Regions from separate parts of the Homo sapiens genome. Here all the other regions are linked to region 1. Evidence: fine-mapped expression QTL. A gene starts in region 1. Each other region holds a variant in brackets. All regions are shown on one strand. Distances are between the middles of the regions. Region 1 holds the start of ZNF473 (zinc finger protein 473). Region 2 overlaps TRPM4 (transient receptor potential cation channel subfamily M member 4). Region 3 has its middle 11 kb from the start of SNAR-F.

Evidence for each region.
Region 2: its variant is fine-mapped to the expression of ZNF473 in sigmoid colon (GTEx, PIP above 0.99).
Region 3: its variant is fine-mapped to the expression of ZNF473 in prefrontal cortex (GTEx, PIP above 0.99).

Annotation. Positions count from the first base shown.
Region 1 is chr19:50,022,654-50,030,833 of GRCh38, reverse strand. It overlaps ZNF473 (zinc finger protein 473), which reads right to left and starts at 4,829. Exons shown (of 5, transcript NM_015428.4): 1 at 4,712-4,829. It overlaps VRK3 (VRK serine/threonine kinase 3), which reads left to right and starts at 5,462. Exons shown (of 15, transcript NM_016440.4): 1 at 5,462-5,567. RefSeq lists enhancers at 4,676-4,725, 5,136-5,185, 5,526-5,605, 5,655-6,156.
Region 2 is chr19:49,182,868-49,191,047 of GRCh38, reverse strand. TRPM4 (transient receptor potential cation channel subfamily M member 4) reads right to left here. Exons shown (of 25, transcript NM_017636.4): 11 at 8,126-8,180; 12 at 7,836-7,970; 13 at 2,278-2,407; 14 at 1,957-2,102; 15 at 728-840; 16 at 275-352. Among named protein-coding and RNA genes, the nearest start is that of TRPM4, 29 kb to the right of the region's middle. RefSeq lists enhancers at 1,659-2,158, 2,159-2,660. The variant T/C (reference allele first, on the strand shown) is at 3,791.
Region 3 is chr19:50,611,978-50,620,157 of GRCh38, reverse strand. No RefSeq gene overlaps it. Among named protein-coding and RNA genes, the nearest start is that of SNAR-F, 11 kb to the right of the region's middle. The variant T/G (reference allele first, on the strand shown) is at 4,761.

The DNA.
Region 1 (8,180 bases):
GTGCTTCAGAACCTACAGAACAGCTTCGCCACCAACAATGGTGGGTTAGCACCTAACAGTCAGTCAGCACATGTTTAGGAGATTTGGTGATGAAAGTCTATGGCCACAGTGGGAGCTTCTGTCTTGCTCACTGCTGTGTCTTAGCACCAGCATGGTGCCTAGTACGCAGTAGGTGCTTTAACAGTAGGTGTAAAAGTACCTACAGTTGTTGACAGAACGAAGGTGTCTAAAGAACCAATGGAACAATGCTTCTGGGATTTCTGATTATCATCTCTGGAATTTGAGTTCAGGTAAATTGGCCTCCGAAACTGTTACTCTTTTTTGGAGACACGGTCTTGCTCTGTTGCCAGGCTGGAGTACTACAGTGGCACAATCATGGGCCACTGCAGCTGTAATTTCCTGGGCTTAAGCAATCCTCCAACCTCAGCCTCTCAAGCAGCTGGGACTACAAGCATGTGCCACCACATCCAGCTAATCTTTTTCACTTTTTGTAGGGACAGGATCTCACTTGTTGCCCAAGTTGTTCTCAAACTCCTGACCTCAAGTAAGCCGCCCTCGTGGGCCACCCAAAGTGCTGGGATTACAGTTGTGAGCCACCGCACCTGGCCACTATCTCTACAACAGAAATATTTCAACTTTTGTTTTAACCGTGACCCACAGTAACACCACCAATATGTAGAATAGGCCAGGCACAGTAGCTCACGCCTGTAATCTCAGTACTTTGGGAGGCCGAGGTGGGCAGATTACTTGAGGTCAGGAGTTCAAGACCAGCCTGGCCAATATGCTGAAACCCCGTCTGTACTAAGAATACAAAAATTAGCTGGGCTTGGTGGGACGTGCCTGTGATCCCAGCTACTCGGAAGGCTGAGGCAAAGAATCACTTGAACCCGGGAGGCAGAGGCTGCAGTGAACCGAGATGGTGCCACCGCACTCCAGCCTGGGCAACACAGTGAGACTCCATCTCAAAAAAGAAAAAAAAAAAGTATCATGACTACTCAAACACACAGTGTAACTAAACAAAAGCTTCATGAAGCAATACTTACCCTGCAATGTAAGATGCACTGGGATGTTTTCTATTCTAGTCTCTTTTATTCTACTTCATTAAAAAATCATAGTCACTGCCCACCTAGTTATTTTCATGACCCATAATACGCAAAACTGTACCACAGACATTTTTACCCATTTGTATCCACTGCGTGGACCAAGTAGCACATATCTGCGGAGTGCTGAAAGCATTTCATATCACAAAGCAGCACGGATCACTTAACAATGACACAGGTCCACAAATTCTTCAAACTCCAAGGCCAGATGTGCTTTGAAATTCAACTTTTATTTTCAAAAGGTGATATGGCATATACATGGCATATTTCATTAAAATCCCAGTGCAGGGCTGGCCGCAGTGGCTCATGCCTGTAATCCCAGCACTTTGGGAGGCCAAGGCAGGCGGATCACGAGGTCAGGAGATCCAGACCATCCTGGCTAACGCGGTGAAACCCCGTCTCTACTAAAAATACAATAACAAAATTAGCCAGGCATGGTGGTGGGCGCCTGTAGTCCCAGTTACTCAGGAGGCTGAGGCGAGAGAATGGTGTGAACCCGGGAGGTGGAGCTTGCAGTGAGCCGAGATGGCGCCATGCACTCCAGCCTGGGCGACAGAGCGAGACTCCGTCTCAAAAACAAAAACAAAAACAAAACAAAACAAAGTCCCAGCGCAGTGTGGATCAGGCTGCATTTCATAATTGAACACTTTACCCTAGAGAAAAGTATCATCGTTCATTCTAGGTAGAATAATTTAAAGTTATATTTAAAAAATACCCTGTAGTAGTTCAGGTAAGGCACGGACACTAAATTTATGAAAAAAAATTTGTTGTTCTGAGTTGTCCAGATTTTTGAGACTACAAATATGGGAATATGGTAGACCTACAATAAATGCTAATTCTACTGAACAATGAGTTTTTCTACATGTCAGAGGTTAAGCCTCAACCTACGAGTATAACTCAGTTGACAGATATTTGGCCCATAATGTTTGTTGGCAGACAGAATGTTTTGAAAGAAAATTCAAGCATGGCTCACTAGTCTCAAACTTGAAAATTGGGAAATTTCACCTAAAAATTATGTTTCCAACTTCTGAAACATCCTAGGATTTGGCAACATTGGGTCTACATCCCACGAAGTTAGTTCACTGGTGCCCATTTAAAGCTCCCCCACCAGTGCTAGGCAAGTGGGGGATGCTTATAATCCCAGCACTTTGGGAGGCTGAAAGGTGTTCGAGACCAGCCTGGGCAACGTAACAAGACCTTGTTTCTAAAAAAAAAAAATTAAAAATGAGCAAGTTGTGGTGGCACGTGCCTGTAGTCCCAACTACTTGGGAGACTGAGGTAGGAGGATCGCTTGGGAGGCTGAGGTAGGAGGATCACTTGAGCCCAGGAGTTCAAGGCTGCAGTGAGCTATGATTGTGTCACTGTACTCCAGCCTGAATGACAGAGAAAGATCCTGCCTCCAAAAAAAAATTAAATTTGTTTTTTTTTTTTTTTTTGAGACGGAGTCTCGTTCTGTCGCCCAGGCTGGAGTGCAGTGGCGCGATCTCAGCTCGCTGCAAGCTCTGCCTCCCGGGCTCATGCCATTCTCCTGCCTCAGCCTCCTGAGTAGCTGGGACTACAAGCGCCTGCCACCACGCCCGGAGAATTTTTTGTATTTTTAGTAGAGACGGAGTTTCACCGTGTTAGCCAGGATGGTCTCGATCTCCTGACCTCGTGATCCACCCACCTCGGCCTTCCAAAGTGCTGGGATTACAGGCATGAGCCACCACACCCGGCCAAAAAAATTAAATTTAAGTTTAAAAAGCGGCTGGGTGCAGTGGCTCATGCCTGCCATCCCAGCACTTTGGGAGGCCAAGGCAGGCGGATCACCTGAAGTTTGGAGTCCAAGACCAGCCTGATCAACATGGTGAAACCCCCGTATCTACCAAAAATACAGAAATTAGCCAGGCATGGTGGTGCACGCCTGTAATTCCAGCTGCTTGGGAGGCTGAGGCAGGAGAATCGCTTCAACCGGGGAGGTGGAGGTTCCAGTGAGACCGAACTCCAGCCTGGGTGACAGAGCGAGACTCTGTCATCAAAAAAAAAACACAATTCTCCCCTTCAGATGAGGCAAGTGCTCCCCAAGGCCCCGCAGCCTCACCTGGACCAGTTCTCTTCTTTCCTGTATGTCATCTGCCTGGCCCTCACAGACAGCTGAGCTTGAGATCCCTGTCTGCAGTTACCAAATCACATTCTGCCCACATCTCATATACTCTCAGCTCTGGGAGGAAAGAAACGAGGGCCCAGAGGTGGAGCCCAAGGTCATCCAGCCCAGAGTGACTTAAGCCAAACAATTATCAGGCTGAGAGACCTTGGGCCCAAGAGTCTTGCCCTTCCTTCCAGACCATTTACCTTCTCTAAGCCTTAGTTTCCACATGTACCAAATGGAACAAATACAACAGATCTATGGTCCTTTAAATGCTCCAAAAACCAGAACTTGATTTATAAACTGACCGCAAAACTTCACCTGGATTGCCACAGGCCATGTAGGGTCTTAATGTTCTCATAAGTGTGAATATTCACACCTTGCCCCACAGAAACATTTTATGACCAAAAACTGGCCCAGATTCCTCGGGGTGTGGGGGGGTGCTGCCTAATTATAAAATATGCACCCTATTAGCTTTCTAAAATCTGAAAAATTCTGATTCCCGAGATTGCCTTGGTGCCAAGGGGACCTGCACTTATGTCTCAGTGCTGCTGCGGGGATCAGAAGAGGAAATGCAACTCCAGCAGGGCGCCTGGCACACAGAAAGCACTCAAATACTGTAAATGTTAAGTACTTCAACTTCCCGAAGAACTCCCATCCATCGTCCAGCAAGATTCTGCCTAAATTTGCCAACTTCAGGTAACTCATTCCCCTCCTTCCCCAACCAAAACCAAAATAAAACAGAACCACTCCTCTCAGGGCCATCAGGGAGGCCTGGAAACCCCTTTAGCAGTTTTCTTTTCTTTTCTTTTCTTTCTCAGCTCACTGCAACCTCTGCCTCCTGGGTTCAAGCAATCCTCCCACCTCGGCCTCCCAATTAGCTAGGAATACAGGGGCGCACCACCACGCCCGGCTAATTTTTCTATTTTTTTCTTCTTTTGTGGAGACAGGGCTTCACCATCTGGCCCAGGCTAGCCTCGAAATCCTGGGCTCAAGCGATCCGCCCACCTCAGCCTCCCAAGGTGGTTTTCTTCCTTTCTTTTTTTTTTTTTTTTTTTAAGATGTAGTCTCGCTCTGTCACCCAGGCTGGAGTGCAATGGCGCGATCTCGGCTCACTGCAACCTCCAGCTCCTGGGTTCAAGCGATTCTCCTGCCTCAGCCTCCTGAGTAGCTGGGATTACAGGCCCCCGCCACCACGCTCAACTAATTTTTGTATTTTTAGTAGAGACTGGGGGTTCGAGGAACTCCTGGCTGTAAGTGATCCCCCCCGCCAAGGCTTCCCAAAGTGCTGGGATTACAGGCGTGATCTACCGTGCCCAGACCTTGAGCGGTTTTCATAACAGACTGTGAAAGACGGTTCACACCTTCACCCTGACAACCGCCGCCCAAGGCGACGCACCCTTTGCCGAAGTCGCCCCCACTTGCATTCCGTCACCTCTCAGGAAGGACCGAGCCCGCAAGTCCCTCAGCCCCAGCGTCTCCGTACCTCGGGATTGTAGTCGGCCGCGTCAACAGACGCAACCCCAGCCTCAAGGGAGCGGGAGATTCAACTCCCCGCACACGCGCCTCCTCGCAGCGACTTCCTGTGCGCGAGAAGCTTCTCTGAGCGGCTGCACCCAGGATCCTCCGCGGCAGCGCCAGGACTCTATTTCCCAGAGGGCTGTGCGGGCGACTTCTTTCGCCTTCCCATCTCCTCCTGCTTCTTCAGCCTTAGCACTGTGGGAGTAGAGTAGAAAGAGAATCAGGACCAGGCGGCATCAGTTTGTAGTCCAGATTTTTACCTTGTTAAAGAATCATCTAATTAGCTTCTTGCCTTTACTAGAAGTCAGGGAGTGTTAACCTTTTCCGAAGAGCAAGCGGTAGGTTGCCATGGAAACGCGTTGTGACGGGTTTCTGAGAAAACAAGCGGAAGTAAGGGGCGGAGTTGAGGCAGAAGTTTAGGTAATGTGACCTCTGATTGGTGGAGAGGTACCTCACGGTGCATTCCGATTGGTCTGACACTGACACATGCGCAGTAGAACCAGAAGGCGTTCCAAAGCGGCTAGAACGGAGGGGAGGGGGATGAGCAATGAGGGAATAATCCCCATTCCGTCTGGAATCAGAGGGCGGGCCTGCCGCGGAGGCATCTGGGAAACGGAGTTCCCAGGCAGGCGAAGCCCAGGGGCCGTCAGGAAGTCAGCGGCGCCTGCGCGGGCGCCTCAGATTCAGGATGCGCGCGCAGCGCTCTCCGCCCAGCGGAAGTTTTCGCTGGGCAACTGAGAAGGTGAGTCCGGGTAACTGCGGAGGATCCGAGGGTCAGGCTGCAGAAGCCCAGAATCCCACCCCAGTCCCCAAGTACAGAGGTGAGGGGAAGCGAGGCGAACGAGGGGACGTCCCCCGACCCCCTAGCCGCAGCTCGGCCGGGGCGTCCGTGACGTCAGCACGACCGTTTGTGGGAGGCGGAGGCCCCTGCTGTCGGGGTTCGGAATGAGAGCGGCTCCGGGTCGCGGGGTTCACTGGCCTCCTCTTGAGCTTCCCAAGCCACCTTGGGCTCCGTGTTGGGCATGGCTAAGGCGGAGATGGGCGGAACTTGTGGGAAGTTCGACAGCTCCTCCGCTGTGAAACTTGGCGTCTAAGTCATCCCGTGGTTTCTATGGAGGTGCGGCCGAAGGGAGGCTCTGTCGTCGCCTAGGCAATCGCCCCACCTGCGCTGAGGTGGGGTCTGACTTTTAGCCTTTTTGCTGTGCTGTTTCCTGAACTTTCTAGGAGGAACACTATACAGTAGTTGACGCATAGCAGCTGTTCCCTAAACATTTGTTGAATAAGTCAAATAAATTAAGATAAAGACTGGCCTGAGGGTTGGAGTCTTAGGGTTTCAAGTCCTGACCTGGCCATTGCATAGGTGACTTCAGCACATCCAATTTTATTGAGCGTTTACTATATGGAAGGCTCCGTGCAACCGATATTACACTACTATAACCTGGGTTTGAACGGTGCTAGTCTAATAGGCACTGTTCAAGCCCAGGTTATTATAGCAGTGTCTAAAACAAAAATCCTGCCCAGCTAATTCACATTCTCAGGGTGGTTGGGGATGCCAGACACTAAAAAAGAAATGTTAAAGAATATTTACAGGTCTGCAGTCCCTTATCTATAACTTTAAAATCCAAAACGTTCTGAAAACTGAAAGGTCTTTTTCTCTGTTTTGCAACTTACTTGGCAGGCCAACCTCACCTGGCTTTGAACTTGTTTGCTGGCAATACCCACTCTGAACTGATGTGTGACTATTTAGAATTTTTAAAGATTTTGTTGTGCAAATCATATACTTATGGAGAGTTGCCCCTGGATCTCGCCGGTGTTGTAATATGTAATAGGTTCTAAAATCCAAAAAATTTGGCTGGGCACGGTGGCTCCCGCCTGTAGTCCCAGCACTTTAGGAGACCGAGGTGGGCGGATCACCTGGGTTCAGGAGTTCGAGACCAGCCTGGCCAACATGGTGAAACCCCATCTCTACTAAAAATAAAAAAATTAGCCGGGCATGGTGGCATGCGCCTGTAATCCCAGCTACTCGGGAGGTTGAGGCAGGGAGAATCGCTTGAACCCAGGAAGCGGAGGTTGCAAGTGAGCTGAGGTCGTGCCACTGCTCTCCAACCTGGGTGACATAGCAAAACTCTGTCCATCATGCAATACATGGCAGAAGCAAGATCCAAACCCAGGCAGATTATTTCCCAAGTTTATCCTCTTAACCCCTGTACTGATCTGCTTCTAAGTGGCACGTCTTTTTTAGGGACCATCCAGCTAGATAATTCCGGCCCTGAGCTTTGAGTCTCTGGCTGGATGTCTAGATTTGCCTGAGAGATGAATGTGTACTGACACAGCTGGGGACCCCCCCCACCCACCTTCTTGGCACATTTTCTTTTGCAAAGGAGACAATGATTTATTCACTCAGCAGACGTAGACCCAGCATTTGCTCTGTGCCAGGCCTGTTTGAGGCTCTGGGCACACTGTGGCAAACAAGGCAGGGAAAAGTCCCCGCCATCATGAAGCTTACATTCTAGTAAGTCAGAGTATGTCAGGTAGTGACAAGCACTGTGAAGAAAAATAAAGCAAGGTAAGGAGGATAAAACATGCTATTAGTAAAATGGTGTCCAGGGCCAGGCACGGTGGCTCGAGCCTGTAATCCCAGGACTTTGGGAGGCTGAGGGGGATCACCTGAGGTCAGGAGTTTAAGACCAGCCTGGCCAACATGGTGAAACCCCATCTCTACTAAAAATATAAAATTAGCCAGGCGTGGTGACACGCATCTGTAATCCCAACTACATGGGAGGCTGAGGCAGGAGAATCACTTGAACTCGGGAGGCAGAGTTTGCAGTAAGCCGAGATCGTGCCATTGCACTCCAGCCTGGGCGAAAAGAGCCAAACTCCATCTCAAAAAAAAGAAAAGAAAAAACACAGTAAAATCGTGTCCAAGAAGGTCTCTGAGAAGGTGACATTTGAACAGAGAGCTAAAGAATGTGATGAGGAAGTTAACTGTGTGCACTCTTAGGGGGACAGCGTTCCAGGCAGATGGGAGAGCAGGTGCAAAGGTCTTGGGGAAGAAACGTTCTTGTCACGATTGGGGAAAAGCACCGAAGCTGTTGTGGCTGACTCAGCGTGAGCAAGGGGAGAGGTGGGAGAGGTCAGAGAGGGAACAGGGAAGTGGCAGATCATACAGGGGGCTCCTGGGCCATGGTAGGAATTTCAGCATTTATTCTGTCTAAAATGAAATCCACCATACGGTTTTGAGTAGAGGAGGGACAGGGTCTGACTTACATTTTATTTATTTATTTGTTTATTTATGAGACTGAGTCTTGCTCTGTTGCCCAGGCTGGAGTGCAGCGGTGCAATCTTGGCTCATTGCAACCTCTGCCTCCCAGGTTCAAGCGACTCTTGCGCCTCAGCCTCCCAAGTAGCTGGGATTACGGGTGCCCACCACCACG
Region 2 (8,180 bases), 840 kb after region 1:
TGCTCTCGCCATGTGATACACTGGCTCCTCCCTCACTTTCTGCCATGAGTGGAAGCTTCCTGAGGGCTCACCAGCCGCAGATGCCAGCACTATGCTTCCTGTACAACCTGCAGAACCATGAGCCAATGAAACCTCTTTTCTTTATAAATTACTCAGTCTCAGGTTTAGCAACTTTGTAGCAACTCAAGAGGGGACTAACACAACGTGGAACTGGCACATGTCCTGAACTGCCCAGGGTGTCCCCACCTCACACAGTGCTGGAGGCTCCACTCACCCGACAGGCCCTTCCCCATTAATGACACTATCCATGTCAAACTCTAGCTCCTCCCGTGTGGGCTCCTCTTCTGATTTCCTAGCAAGGGGGGAAGCACAGAGCAAGAAATGAGGGGAAGAGAAGGTGGAGAGGCATTCTCCAGCAAAACTCAAACTTCTTCACCCGGAGACATGGCAGAGGGACAGAGAGGTGGTCTCCTAAAGTCATCCCAAAGGGACCTTCCCCCAGAGCCATGGCCAGAAAGGCAGAGTAACTGCCACTAGAGATACCACAGGGAGGATCCCCCCCAAAACTCACCTCCCACAGCACTCCCTTAGTGGAGGGACAGAGAGTCCCATTCCTAGGGAAGGGACACAATGGGCCGATGAGGGAAGAAAGGTGGGCAGAGGGGGCAGGAAGGAGAAACTGAGCACCCCGCCCCCATCCCCACCACTCTCACCCCAGGGTACTGACCTGAAGGTGATGAGGCGGGTGTAGATGAGTGGAGGGCAAAAGAAGGCGAGAACCAGGGCCCAGATGGGTGTAGTGCTGGCCATATCTCCCCACCACTTCTGTGTCAGCAGAGACTGTGGGGGGTGGGAAGGATTAGGATCCAAATCTCCCCCACAGCCCCGTCCCTAAGACGCCCAGCAAGGGTTGGACTGCAGCTCCAGAGTACAGAGCAAGTGCCCAATGTCACAGCCACAACTATTGAGGTAGGGAAACGGTGGTGAAAGGCAAAGACAACTTAGGCCAGGTTTTGGCAGTAAACAGTCAACACTTAAATTGACACCATATGGCAGATACAGGGCTAAGCACTTTATGTAGATTAGTCCACCGAACCCTTGACACATAAGGGGGTGGGTACTAGTATCTCCTCCTTGGTACACATGAGGCACAGAGAGGTTAAGGAAACGGCCCAAAGAAACACAGTTTGTATGTGGTAGAGCTGGAATCCATGAGTTTAACCACTATCCACAGCAAGGGACTCTGGGTAGCTGTTTGAAATGTCAGCCAAACCATTCCAACAGATGAGGATGGGACTTCCTGTTGGGCACAACTTCCTGTACTAAAGTGGGACTCTGAGCCCCTGTCAGATTTAAACTAAAAATATTGATAATGTTTCCAAAATGTCAACTTGTCAGGATCGGAGAGACTGTGGGAGCAAGTAGGGCTTCCCAAGGCAGATGATTTCCTATAGGAAGGGTGAGATTTCCTAGACCAAAGTTTGTTTATGTCCAAAAAAAAAAAAAGGTAATTGTTCAGTGAGGCCATTCTAACTGCTGAAAACTGAAACTAGGGACCTCTAAAGGAAGTGGAAAGGACTTCCTGTGGATGCCGTAGGACTTCCTGTGGATGAGCTAGGACTTCCTTTGAAAGAAATGGACTCTTCCCTGAAAGCGGGAAGGACTTCCAAGGTTAAAGGTGGAATTTCCTGACAGGGTCACAAGGAGTTTCTCTATCTGGAGTGGAACTTTTTAGGAAGATGGGCTTTGCCGTGGGAAGGTTGGCTTTTGGTGGAAGGGAGCGGGGCTTCTTATGGGAAGAGCAGCCTTTCTGAGAGAGAAGAGAGACTTTCTGGGGGATCTCCAGGGAGAGTGGCTGGTCAAGACCATAGATGTTCCCAATGGCAGGGGCTCATCCCCATACTTCCCAGAGTCCACTTGGAGACTGTTTGGGATGTTGGTGTCGCAGATACTCACCTGTACCCCATCCTGGGCAAAGAAGGCACGGGCGTCAGCTTGCATGGCCAGCTGGAGGCAAGTGGCATCCCCCCAGAGCGGGCAGCGACGGAGGAGGAGGCGGGCAGCCCTCACCTCACTGCTGCGATAGCACTCGCCAAAGAGGTCTGGGGCAGAGGAGTTAGTTATGTGACAGGGATGGGAAGGAGTAGGGTGAGGGTGTGAAGGGAGAGGTAAGGGAATTTAAGGGGATGGCGCAGGGATATGTGAGGAGTGCGGAGTTGCACATCCCCCTCTGGCGGCAGCCCCCGTCCCTGCTCCCAGGCACCGTGCCCCACGCACCAACGCCCATCCCCTCAAACTTGAACGCCAGGTCTTTCCTCCGTGCTGCCTCCTCAGCGTCAGGCTCCAGGCGTGCCATCACCCGGAGCAGCAAACAGGCCCCAAGAGCTGAGGAAACTGCATTGGAACCCTGGAGAGACAAAGAGGGCACGGATGCGTCAAAGAGGGTTCATAGAGGGGGAGGAAGCCTGAAGTCAAGGGAAGGAACAGAGTCAGAGGTCAGAAACTAACTGGGGTCATCAGAGGCCAAGGATGAAGTAATGTTTGGAGATGGATCTGGAAGAAACTGAAAGTCAGTTGAAAATGCCAGAAGTCAGGTGGTTCAGAGACCAGGGATGCAAGTCAGGGGCTGGGCTGCAGTTAGAATCAATTCAGCAGTCACAGACAGGTCAAGAAGCAGTTGGAGGCTGGGTAAAGTGGCTCACGACTATAATCCCAGCACGTTGGGAGGCTGAAGTGAAACCACCTTTGCAAAAATGATAACTGAGAAAATTATGACAATGAAAGAAATCAGACCTAACCGACTCCATCTTGCTTCTAACCCTTAAGCTGTCCTCGCTCATTCCTGGGCATAGGCTGAACTAACTTTGGGAAGGAATTCTGTTCATGGTTTGACTCTGAAACGAAATTGATAATAGCCCTTTCCCCAAAGACCCCCATCTTGCCTGGGGACCAGTCTACCTTTGCAGGACTAACAAATTAGCTACAAGATTAGAAATTAAGTTTAGGGGTCACGCAGCCTCTGGCTCCCCCAATTGCTCCTGGGGATAACATCATTACTGTAACACCTAAGATGAGTGCTTGAGATAGTTTGCAGACCCTGCACTGGATGGATCAGCTGACACCACCCAGACTGTAGTCTGGCTCAACCAGTTCTGCCATCCCACCCAGGAACAGAAAACAGCAAGAAAAACCTCACTTCCAACCCCTGTGATTCCATCTCCAACCTGACCAATCAGCACTCCCCACTTCCCAAGCCTCTACCCACCAAATTATCTTTAAAAGCTCTGATCCCTGAATCCTCGAGGAGACTGATTTGAGTGATAATAAAACTGAGGTCTCCCGCACAGCCGGCTCTGCGCGAATTACTCTTTCTCCATTACACTTTCCTTGTTTTGATAAATCGGCTCTGTCTAGGCAGCGGGCAACGTGAACCCATTGGGTGGTTACAAATGAGGAGGATTGCTTGAGCCCAGGAATTCAAGACCAGCCAGGCAACATGGTGAGACTCCATCTCTACAAAATTTTTTTTTTTTTAGTTAGCCAGGCGTGGTGGTCTGCTTCTGTAGTCCCAGCTACTAGGGAAGCTGAGGTAGGAGGATCGAATGAGCCCAGTAGGTTGAGGCTGCAGTGAGCCATGATCATGCCACTGCACTCCAGCCTGGATGACTGAGGAAGACCCTGTCTCTAACAATGAAATTTTTAAAAGCCCTTGGAGAGGTGACCAAAAATGCCAGTGTAGGGAACTTCAAAACTTTATCCCTCCACAAAAGCAATCAATAGCTATCAAAAG[T/C]TGTCAGAATCAACTTTTCTAGAATTCTGGAATCTAATCGAAAACTTATAAAAAAAAAAAAACAAGAAAATGCTTAATGAAGAGACCACTAAATTTCAGTAAGAGGGTACTGTGACATTTTAACCTACCCACTTACTACCCCCAGCTCCCCAGTTCAGTGGCAACCTTGAAGACAAAGACACACATTCCTGGTGTGGGTCGCTAGTACTAGAGGGAGCAATTCAGACTTACCCTCCAGAATTGTGGTTGTGTGTGTGGCCCTATCTGGTGGCTCCCTGAAGCAACAGCTCAAGGACTTGACTTTGCTTCACCTGCCTTAGAGCTTTCCCCAGAGAAAAAGTGGCTTTCCAGGCAGTGTGTGTTAAAATCTTTTTTTTTTTTTTTGAGACGGAGTTTCACTCTTGTTGCCCAGGCTGGAGTGCAATGCTGCAATCTCAGCCCACCACAACCTCTGCCTCCGAGGTTCAAGCAATTCTCCTGCCTCAGCCTCCCGAGTAGCTGGAATTACAGATATGCGCCACCATGCCAGGCTAATTTTTTGTGCTTTTAGTAGAGATAGGGTTTCTCCATGTTGGTCAGGCTGGTCTCGAACTCCTGACCTCAGGCGATCCACCTGCCTCGGCCTCCCAAAGTGCTGGGATTACAGGTGTGAGCCACTGCACCCGGCCTGTTAAAATCTTTTAAAGGCAAATGAATTAACCACATCCATCTGAGGCAAGGACTCACAGTAGAGGCAGTAATAGATACACTAAGCATCTTGGGAAGAAAGAGGCCATGAAAGGAAATACTTGGAGGGAATAAGGGCTTTGAAAGTCTTCCTTGTGTACCAGGAAATCCAGACGGCTAGATGCATGACTAGGGCTAGAGGCGTGCTCAGAAAATACCAGAGAAAACCTGAAGCTCTTACATCTGGCTGAACTTTAGGCTCTGCACAAGCAGGAAGTGAAGACTAAAGCAGAACTGTAAACAGCTTGGCTAAGTATTGAAAGACTGCTTCAATATACAGCCACGGTGGGCGTCGCTCATGCCTCTAATCCCAGCACTTATAGGGAGTTTCTTGTTATATTTGCTTCTGTGGTTCTAGGCATTTAAGGATATCTCTGTCAAGTCACCAGCAGACCACTAAGCTAACAGAAGAGGGGCTTCCATGGCCACACATGCAAAGAATACAGACTTTCCAAAAAAGGTTTAGAGAAGTCACTAAACAGGGTGGGCGCGGTGGCTCACGCCTGTAATCCTAACACTTTGGGAGGCCAAGGTGGGTGGATCACCTGAGGTCAGGAGTTTGAGACCAGCCTGGCTAACATGGTGAAACCCCGTCTCTATGAAAAATACAAAAATTAGCTGGGTGTGGTGGCACACACCTGTAATCCCAGCTACTTGGGAGGCTGAGGCAGGAGAATCACTTAAACCTGGGAGGTGGAGCTTGCAGTGAGCCGAGATTGCACCACTGTACTCTAGCCTGGGCCACAGAGTGAGACTCCATCCCCCCTCCCCCCAAAAAAAAGAAAAAGAAAAAAGAAAAGTCACTAAACAAACAACAATGACCCACAATGAGCAGCAGCCACAACAAACCCTGGAGGGAGGGCATAAGCTGATTTCCAGAGTTGCCACATTATCATATTCAAAATGTTCCACTTTTCAACCAAAAATTATGAGGCATGCAAAGAAACAAGACAATATGGTTCATATACTGGAAAAAAAAGAAATTAATAGAGACCAGGCATGGTGGCTCACACCTGTAATCCCAGCACTTTGGGAGGCCCAGGCAGGAGGATTGCTTGAGCCCAAGAATTCAAGACCAACCTGGGCAACATAGTAAGACCCCATCTCTGCAAATTTTTTAAAATTAGCTTGGCATGTGGCTGGTAGACCCAACTACTCAGGAGGCTGAGGTGGGAGGATTGCTTGAGTCCAAGAAGTCAAGGTTGCAGTGAACTTTGGTCAAACCACTGCAGTCCAGTCTGAGTGACAGAATGAGACTCTGTCTCAACAACAACAACAAGAACAACAAATAAATAAATAAAAGAAAAGAAATGAAATGAATAGAAATGAGTAGGAAAAAAATAAATGAATAGAAACTATCCCTGAGGAAACTCAGACACTGAACTTACTAGCAAAGGCTTTAAATAAATTGTCTTAAATATGCTCGAAGAGCTAAAGGAAATCATGAAAAAAGAACTAAAGGGAGCCAGGAAAAAGATGTCTCACCACCTAGAGAATAAGAATACAGAGATAGAGGCAGGGTTTCCTGAAACTGGGTTAATTCTTTATAGAAATGTGAACACTGAATTTATTTTTTTAAAAATAAAAATTAAAAAAAAAAGAAAAAAACACAGAAAACATCTTATCTGTATATAGGTCTTGAGTGAAGTGGCTGCTTTTTTTTCTGCTTTTTGTAGAAGAGATTGAGAATGGTACTGTAATCAAAAATAAAGTTTTGTAGTGGGACCAGGAAAAAAAAAAGACAGACTACAGAGGCCGGGCGCAGTGGCTCACGCCTGTAATCCCAGCACTTTGGGAGGCCGAGGAGGGCAGATCACGAGGTCAGGAGATCGCAACCATCCTGGCTAACACAGTGAAACCCTGTCTCTAAAAAAATACAAAAAAATTAGCTGGGCGTGGTGGCGGGCACCTGTAGTCCCAGCTACTTGGGAGGCTGAGGCAGGAGAATGGCGTGGAGGCAGGAGAATGGCGTGAACCCAGGAGGCAGAGCTTGCAGTGAGCGGAGATTGAGCCACTGCACTCCAGCCTGGGCGACTGAGCGAGACTCTGTCTCAAAAAAAAAAAAAAAAAAAAAAAAAAGACTACAGAGACAGAAATGAACCAAATAGAAACTCTGAAGCTAAAAAGCACAATAACTGAAATATAAAAACCACTAGAGGGACTCAACAGTAGATTCATAAAAAAGGCAAAATAAAGATCAGTGAATTTGAAGCTAAGTACATTGAGATTATCCAGCCTGAGGAGAAAAAAGAAAAACAAATGAAGGAAAATAAGCAGAGCCTAAGGGACTTGCGAGACACCATACAGAATATTAATACATACATAATGAGAGTCCAAAAGGAAAAGAGAGACAGAAAGGGAAAGAAATAATATTTGAAGATATAATGTCCTAAAAACTTCCAAAATGTGATGAAAGACAAAAGTCTACACATCCAGGAAGCTCAAGGAACTCCAAGTAAAAGAAATTCACAGGCCAAGCACAGTGGCTCACGCCTGTAATCCCAGCACTTCGGGAGGCCAAGGCAGACAGATCACAAGGTCAGGAGATCAAGACCACGGTGAAACCCCATCTCTACTAAAAATACAAAAAATTAGCTGGGCGTGGTGGCGGGCGCCTGTAGTCCCAGCTACTCGGGAGGCTGAGGCAGGAGAATGGCATGAACCCAGAAGGTGGAGCTTGCAGTGAGCCGAGATCATGCCACTGCACTCCAGCCTGGGCAACAGAGCAGGACTCCATCTCAAAAAAAAAAAAAAAAGAAAAAGAAAAAGAAATTCACAGAGATCCACACTGAGATATATTATCAAAGGCCAAAACAAAGAGAGAATCTTGGCCAGGCACGGTGGCACATGCCTGTAATCCCAGCATTTTGGGAAGCCGAGGCGGGTGGATCACTTGAGGTCAGGAGTCCAGCCTGGCCAACATGGTGAAACCCCATCTCTACTAAAACAAAACAAAACAAAACAAAAATTAGCCAGGCGTGGGGGCAGGTGCCTGTAATCCCAGCTACTCCGGAGGCTGAGGCAGGAGAATTACTTGAACCCGGGAGACTGAGGGTGCAGTAAGCCAAGATTGCGCCACTGCACTGCAGCCTGGGCGACAGAGCGAGACTCTGTCTCAAAAAATAAACACATAAAATAATGCATGATGTGAGAGAGAGAAAAGAAAGAGGAAGCAGTTGGAGGCATATATCAGCGACGGAGGATGGGGCGCCTGTCAGGTGACGTCAGGGGTCGGGGAATTGTATGGTAATTGTTTCGGGAACACTGGCATCCAGTGGCCTAAAGGACAGGGATGCAGGAGCGCCAAGTCAGCACTCACCATCTCCCAGAAGTACATGGCCATCTGTGCCCTGTTCAGCAACAGTGCCCAAAGAAGCAGGTCGCTCCAGGGGGCCTGCCCGAGGCCAGCATCCAGCGAGAGCGGCGAGGTGGCCTTGTCCGAGAGCAGATACATCTGCCAGCAAAAGGAGGGGTGGTGAGGACCAGCCCCTCCCCAACACTGGCCACCACCAGCCCTGCCTCTGGTTTGGCCACGCCCCATCCCTGATGTAATCCCGCCCCCAGGTCCTTCCCGCGCGGGGGGGCCCCCCAGCTTTGCCCGGTCCTTACGCTCTCCCCGAAGCCCTGGCCTGGGTGAGGGTCCCAGGCGCCCCCGGAGGGGTAC
Region 3 (8,180 bases), 590 kb before region 1:
TAAAAAAAAAAAAAAAAATTGGCCGGGCATGGTGATGTTCACTTGTAGTTCCAGCTACTTTGGAGGTCGAGGTGGGAGTATTGCTCGAGCTCAGGAGTTCGAGACCAGCCTGGGCAGCATAGCAAGACCCTGTCTCTACAAATAATAGTAGTAGTAGTAGTAGTAATAATAATAATAATAATAATAATAATAATAATAATAATAATAAAATTATCCAGGTATAATAATAATAATAATAATAATAATAATAATAATAAAATTATCCAGGCATGATGGTGCTCACCTGTAGTCCCAGCTACTCTGGTGGCTGAGGCAGGAGGATCACTTGAGCCCAGGAGTTTGAGGCTGCAGTGAGCTGTGATGGCACTGCTGCCCTGCATCTCAAAAACATGATGCCGTGTGATACAGCCAGATACAAGGGTATATGCTGTAGGATTCCACTTTTGTGAAACTGTAGAAAGAAAACACTAATATGGGCAGGGCATGGTGGCTCACGCCTGTAATCCTAGCACTTTGGGAGGCTGAGGCAGGCGGATTACTTGAGATCAGAAGTTCAAAAGCAGCCTGGCACCTGTAATCCCAGCTACTTGGGAGGCTGAGGTAGGAGAATCGGGAGGCGGAGGTTGCAGTGAGCCGATCATGCCACTGCACTCCAGCCTGGGCAACAGAGTGAGACTCCAACTCAAAAAAGAGAGAAAGAAAGAGAGAGAGAGAAGGAAGGAAGGAAGGAAGGAAGGAAGGAAGGAAGGAAGGAAGGAAGGAAGGAAGGAAGGAGAGAGAGAGAAAGAAAGAAAAAAGAAAAGAAAAGAAAAGAAAGAGAAAGAAAGAAAGACGCCAGAGGCCAGGCACAGTGGCTCACCCTGTAATCCCAGCACTTTGGGAGGCCAAGGCAGGTGGATCACGAGGTCAGGAGTTCAAGACCAGCCTGGCCAACATGGTAAAACCCCATCTCTACTAAAAATACAAAAATTAACCGGGTGTGGTAGCGAGTGCCTGTAATCCCAGCTACTTTGGAGGCTGAGGCAGGAGAATGGCTTGAACCTGGGAGGCGGAGGTTGTAGTGAGCTGAGATCACACCACTGAACTCCAGCCTGGGTGACAGAGTAAAAGAAAAGAAAAGAAGAGAAGAGAAGAAAAGAGAAAAGAAAAGGCTAATACGCAGGGGCAGAAAATGGATTAGTGGTTGACTGGGGGCAGTGGCAGTGGTTATGGAGAGACTGATTACTAGTGGACACAGGGAAACTTTCCGGATGATGGAAGTGATCACACAACCGAATACATTTGTCAAAATTCATTGCGCTTAAAATTGGTTCATTTAAATTCTTGTACATTGTTGCAAAATACACATAACACAAACTTTATCATCTTAGCCAATTTTTTTTTTTTGAGACGGAGTCTCGCTGCAATGCCCAGGCTGGAGTGCAATGGCATGATCTTGGCTCACTGCAACCTCCACTTCCCCGGTTCAAGCGATTCTCCTGCCTCAGCTTCCAGAGTAGCTGAGATTACAGGCATGAGCCACCTCCCCAGGACTTAGCCAATTTTAAGTGTACAGTTGCATTGTTGTGCAATCATCACCCCTACTCATCTCCACTCTTTCCTCTTGTAGAATTGAAACTGTTCCCATCAAGCAACTCCCACTGCCTTCCCTTCCCAGCCCCTGGGAAGCACGTTCTACTCTCTGGGAAATTCCCTATGAATTTGACTACTCTAGGTACCTCATGTAAGTGGAATCATACAGCATCTGTCTTTTTGTGATGGGATTGTTTCACTTAGCATGAATGTCCTCAGGCTTCACCCATGTTGTAGCATGTGTTAGCATTTCCTTCCTTTTTAAGGTTAAATAATTTTCCATTATGGGCCAGGCACAGTGACTCACACCTGTAATCCCAGCACTTTGGGAGGAAGAGGCAGGCGGATCACGAGGTCAGGAGATCGAGACCATCCTGGTCAACATGGTGAAACCCCATCTCTACTAAACTACAAAAAATTAGCCGGGCGTGGTGGCAGGCGCCTATAGTCCCAGCTACTCGGGAGGCTGAGGCAGGGGAATCACTTAAACCTGGGAGGCGGAGGTTGCAGTGAGCCAAGATCGCACCCCTGCACTCTAGCCTGGGCGACAGAGCGAGACTCCATCTCAAAAAAAAAAATCCATTATGTGTATATACCACATTTTGTCGAACCATTTATTTGTTGATGAACAGCTGGGTTGCCTCCTTCACCTTTTGGGTATTGTAAATAATGCTGCTATGAAAGTGTGTTGCAAATATCTTTTTGAAATATTGATACATTTTCTTGTACACAAATTATATTTTGATAAAGTTGGCTAAAACTAATACTCCCACCTAACATAACTATCTCTAGTGCAACTGCAGAAGCTTTCACCCCTTCTGCAAAGGGAGGGATCCCAAAGCCACATCCAATCCTCAGACCAAGATTTCTGGATATTGGCTATTCCTTTCATCAAGGGCACATGGAGTCTCTCTTGATCCTGAAAATTAATGTTAAGGCTGGGCACGGTAGCTCACACCTGTAATCCCAGCACTTTGGGAGGCCAAGGCAAGTGGATCACCTGAGGTCAGGAGTTCAAGACCAGCCTGGCCAGCATGGTGAAACCCTGTCTCTACTAAAAGTACAAAAATTAGCCCGGCATGGTGGCACACACCTATAATCCCAGCTACTCGGGAGGCCGAGGCAGAAGAATCACTTGAACCTGGGAGGCGGAGGTTGCAGTCAGCGGAGATTGTGCCACTGCACTCCAGCCTGGTGACAGAGCAAGACTCCATCTAAAAAAAAAATTAATGTTAAATGAAATTGTAGCCCCCTCAGCAACCCACCCCTGTGTATAACAGTGGAGGAAAAACAAGAAAACAATCACAATTCTCACTTGAAAGGGGAGGGAAGAGAAACAAAATAGTATATGCCATTTGCTGGACTTGCCAAGACTCCTCCACTTTCAAGAGACAAAAAACTGGCCTTTTAAAAAATTATTGCCAAGCTCGGTGGCTCATGCCTGTAATCCCAGCACTTTGAGAGGCTAAGATGGGAGGATCACTAGAGCCCAGGAGTTCGAGACCCAGCCTTGGCAACATAGCAAGACTCCATCTCTTTAAATATATATATATATATAAATAGCCAAGTGCCATGGTGTGCACCTGTAGTCCCAGCTACTCAGGTGGGAGGATCGCTTGAGCCCAGGAGGTCAAGGCTGCAGTGAGCCATGGTTGAGCCACTGCAGTCCAGTCTGGATGACAGAGACCCAGTTTCAAAAAAACAATTATTGAAGTACAACATACTCACAAAGAAACTCACAAATACCCAGTAAGTATGGATCAGATAACAGACTGAGCACACCATGTAACCATGGGTAACCAGCCCTGGGTCAGGAACTAGAACATTACCAGCTCTCCAAACCCCTCATGCTCCTTGTCAGTCACTTTTTTGTGTTTTTTTTTTTTTTGAGACAGAGTCTCGCCTGGAGTGCAGTGGCGCTATCTCGGCTCACTGCAAGCTCCGCCTCCTGGGTTCACGCCATTCTCCTGCCTCGGCCTCCCGAGTAGCCGGGACTACAGGCGCCTGCCACTATGCATGGCTAATTTTTTTGTATTTTTAGTAGAGACGGGGTTTCACCGTGTTAGCCAGGATGGTCTCGATCTCCTGACCTCATGATCTGCCCACCTCGGCCTCCCAAAGTGCTGGGATTACAAGCGTAAGCCACCGCGCCCGGCCCCTTGTCAGTCACTTCTTTACCTCAAAAGTAACTACTACCCTGATTTCTGACACCATAAGTTAGTTTGCCTTGTTTTTTATCTTAATCTGCTTGGAATCCTACAAGCATAGAGACTTGTGTGTTGGAATTCTCTCTTTTTTTTTTTTTTTTTTTTTTGAGACGGAGAGTCGCTCTGTCACCAGGCTGGAGTGCAGTGGCATGATCTCAGCTCACTGCAACCTTCGCCTCCCAGGTTCAAACGATTCTCCTGCCTCAGCCTCCTGAGTAGCTGGGATTACAGGTGCGCACTACCACACCCGGCTAATTTTTTGTATTTTTAGTAGAGACAGGGTTTCACCATGTTGGCCAGGATGGTTTCTATTTCTTGACCTTGTGATCTGCCCATCTCGGCCTCCCAGAGTGTTGGAATTACAGGCGTGAGCCATTGCACCTGGCCTGAATTGTTTTATTCATCATACGTCTATGAGATTTGTCCATGTAGTTGCTGATTGTTGGAGGTTGTTCATTGTCATTGCTGTATAAGAGTGTGTTATGAGCCAGGCATGGTGGCTCATGCCTATAATCCTAGCACTTTAGGAGGGTGAGGCAAGCAGATAGCTTGAGCACAGGAGTTCAAGACCAGCCTGAGCAACATAGCAAGACCCCGTCTCTACAAAAAAAATACAAAAATTAGTGGGGTGTGGTGGTGCGTGCCTGTCATCTCAGCTACTTGGGAAGCTGAGGTGGGAGGATGGCTTGAGCTTGGGAGGCAGAAATTGCAGTGAGCTGAGATCACACCACTGCACTACAGCCTGGGTGACAGAGGACAATCTTGTCTCAAAAAAAAAAAAGTGTGTTATGGGAATACATAATAATCTATGTATCCATTCTACTGTTGATTGACATTTAGGTGCCTTCTGATTTGGCATGATCACTTATAGTACTGCTATATACATTGAATTTTGGTGAACATATGTAGGCATTTCTGTATTTCTGTTGGGTATATACCTAGAAGTGTAATTGCTGGGTCCCAGGGTGTATACATGGTGTG[T/G]GCATGTTCATCTTTTTTTTTTTTTTGAGATGGGAGTGGCCAGGCTGGTCTTGACCTCAGGTGATCTGCCGCCTCCCGAAGTGTTGGAATTACAGGCGTGAGTCACCATTCCCAGCTTCATGTTCATCCTTCATAGACACTGCCAACCAGGTTTTCAAACTAATTTTCTCCATTTATACACCCACTAGCAGTCTCTGAGAATTTCAGTTGCTCGCCAACATTTGGTATTGTTAGTCCTTTCAATTTTAGCAATTCTGGTGGGGCTGTAGCCGTGTTTTATTATGGTTTTAATTTACCTTTAGCCCAATGCCTAAAGAAATTTAACACCGTTTCGGGCCAGGCGCAGTGGCTCATGCCTGTAATCCCAGCACTTTGGGAGGCCGAGGCGGGTGGATCACGAGGTCAGGAGATCGAGACCACGGTGAAACCCCGTCTCTACTAAAAATACAAAAAATTAGCTGGGCGCGGTGGCGGGTGCCTGTAGTCCCAGCTACTCAGGAGGCTGAGGCAGGAGAATGGCGTGAACCCGGAAGGCGGAGCTTGCAGTGAGCCAAGATCACGCCACTGCACTCCAGCCTGGGAGACAGAGCGAGACTCAGTCTCAAAAAAAAAAAAAAATAGAAAGAAATTTAACACCATTTCAAATATTAATTGGCCATATGAATATGCTACTTTGTGAAATGTCAATTCACGCCATTTGTCCACTTTTTGACTGGTTTTTCTGCCTTTTTTAAAAAACAGGTTAGTAGTTCTTTCTTTATTTTTCTTATGAGTCTTTTGTTAGAATACATATTCTTCTCCCACTCTCTGGCTTCTCTTTTCATTCTCTTAGTGGTATTTTTTGATAAGGATCAGTTTCTATTTTAATATAGTCCAATTTATCAACATTTTCCTTTATAGTTAAGGCTCCTTTGTTTCTGGTTTAAGAAATATTTTCTGGCCAGGCACACTGGCTCATGCCTGTAATCTCAGCACTTTGGGAGGCTGAGGAGGGAGGATCACATGAGCCTAGGAGTTCGAGACCAGCCTGGGCAACATAGCGAGACCCTATCTCTATTAACACAAACAAGTAAATAAAAGAAATATTTTCTTACCCTGAAGGTTCTGAAGATACTCTATGATATTTTCTTCTAGAAGTTTTATTGTTTAAGCTTTAACATTTAGATCTACAACACATCTGGAATCAATTTTTGTGTATGGTGTGAGGTAGAGGTCATATGGCTATCAACTGGCTCAGCCCTATTGATTCAAAAAGATCATCTTTTGCTTCTCACTGCACTGAAATGTTGCTTTTGTCATAAACCAAGTTACCATATATGTGTGAACTTTTCCTGATTTTTCCGTCTTGTTCTTTTGGCCTATTTGTTTTTCCTCGCAAGAGTATGCTGCTTTAATTATTATTATAATAAGCCTTGCTCTCTGGAAAGTACTCTGGCTTTTTTTTGTTTTTAACAAAGGGAATTTGTTGACTTATAGAACCGAGCTGTATAACTAGCTTCAGGCATAACTGGATCCAGGCACTAAAATGAATCTTTAGCAATACAGCTCATTTCCCATCTGGGCTTTACTTTTCTGTATCTTGACTTTCCTCTCAGGCAGAATCTCTTCCCTCACGGTGACAAACAGGGCCCACAGCAGCTCAAAGTTTCCATACTATCATTTTAACAACCTAGCAGAAAAGAGGTACTGCTTTCCTGAATGGTGATACCAAAGTCTCAAGGTTAGCTCTCATTGGTCCAACTTGGGTCACATGTCCATTTCTATAGTAACCATGTGTCTTAGTCCATGTTGTCTTGCTATAAAGGAAAACCTGACGCTGGGTAATTTTTATTTTTATTTATTTATTTTTTTTTTTTGAGACAGGATCTTGCTCTGTCACCCAGGCTAGAGTGCAGTGGTGCAATCTTGGCTCACTACAATGTCCGCCTCCCAGGTACAAGTGATTCTCCTGCCTCCAGTGTAGCTGGTATGACAGGTGCCCGCCACCACACCTGGCTAATTTTTTGTATTTTTAGTAGAGACAGGGTTTCACCGTGTTAGCCAGGCTGGTCTCGAACGCCTGACCTAAAGTGATCCACGAGGCTGGGTAATTTATAAAGAGAAAAAGGTGTATTTGGCTTATGATTCTTCTGGCTGGAAGATTGGGCATACAGAGAAAGTCTTGAGCTGCTTCTACTCTTGGTGGAAGGAGAAAGAAAGCAGGGATCACGTGACAATAGAGGAAGCAAGAGAGGCAAGTGTCAGCCTCTCTTTAACAACCAACTCTAATGGGAACTAATGGAGGAAGAACTCACTCACCCACACTCCCAGGGAGGGCATTAATCTATTTGTGAGGGGTCCACCCCTGTGACCCAAACACCTCTCATTAGGACCCCATCTCCAACATTGGGGATCAAATTTCAACAACGAAATTTAGAAGGCAGCCTGGCCAACACGGGAAAACCCCGTCTCTCCTAAAAATACAAAAATTAGCCGGGCGTGGCATGTGCCTGTAATCCCAGCTACTCAGGAGGCGGAGGCAGAAGGGTCACTTGAACCCAGGAGGTGGAGGTTGCACTGAGCCAAGATTGTGCAACTGCACTCCAGCCTGGGTGACAAAGCAAAACTCTGTCTCAAAAAAAAAAAAAAAAAAAATTGGATGGGACATACATCCAAACTACTGCACATCATAACCAAGGTCATGAAGCACTCAGATTGGCCAGGTCTGACTCTTGTTCTCACTCTGAAATCCCTGGCAAGATCCAGTTAAAAAATGTATATTTTGCATGGGGAGGAGTGATAGGAAAATCAGATGTTTAAGAGAACAAAAAGAGAAGCTATAGATTGTGAGAAAATCTTTTCAAAACACCTTTCAGACAAAAAGCTGGTATCCAGGCCAGGTGTGGTGGCTCACATCTGTAATCCCAGCATTTTGAGAGGCCGAGGTGGGCGGATCACCTGAGGTCAGGAGTTTGAGACCAGCCTGGCCAACGTGGCAAAATGCTGTCTCTACTAAAAATACAAAAATTAGCCAGTCATGGTGGTGGGCGCCTGTAATCCCAGCTACTCGGGAGTCTGAAGCAAGAGAATCACTTGAACCTGGGAGGCGGAGGTGGCAGTGAGCTGAGATTGCGCCATTGCACTCCAGCCTGGGCAACAGAGCAAGACTTTGTCTGAAAAAAAAAAAAAGAAAGAAAGAAAAAGAAAAAAGAAAGCTGGTATACAAAGAACTAAAACTCAACAATAGGAAAACAAACAACCCAATTTAAAAATAGGGAACAGATCTGAACAGACACTTCAACAAAGAAGATATGCAGATGGCAAATAAGTAAATAAAAAGATAGTTGGCCAGGTGTGGTGGCTCCCGCTTATAATCCCAACACTTTGGGAGGCTGGGGCAGGAGGATCATTTGAGGCCAAGAGTTTCAGACCAACCTAGGC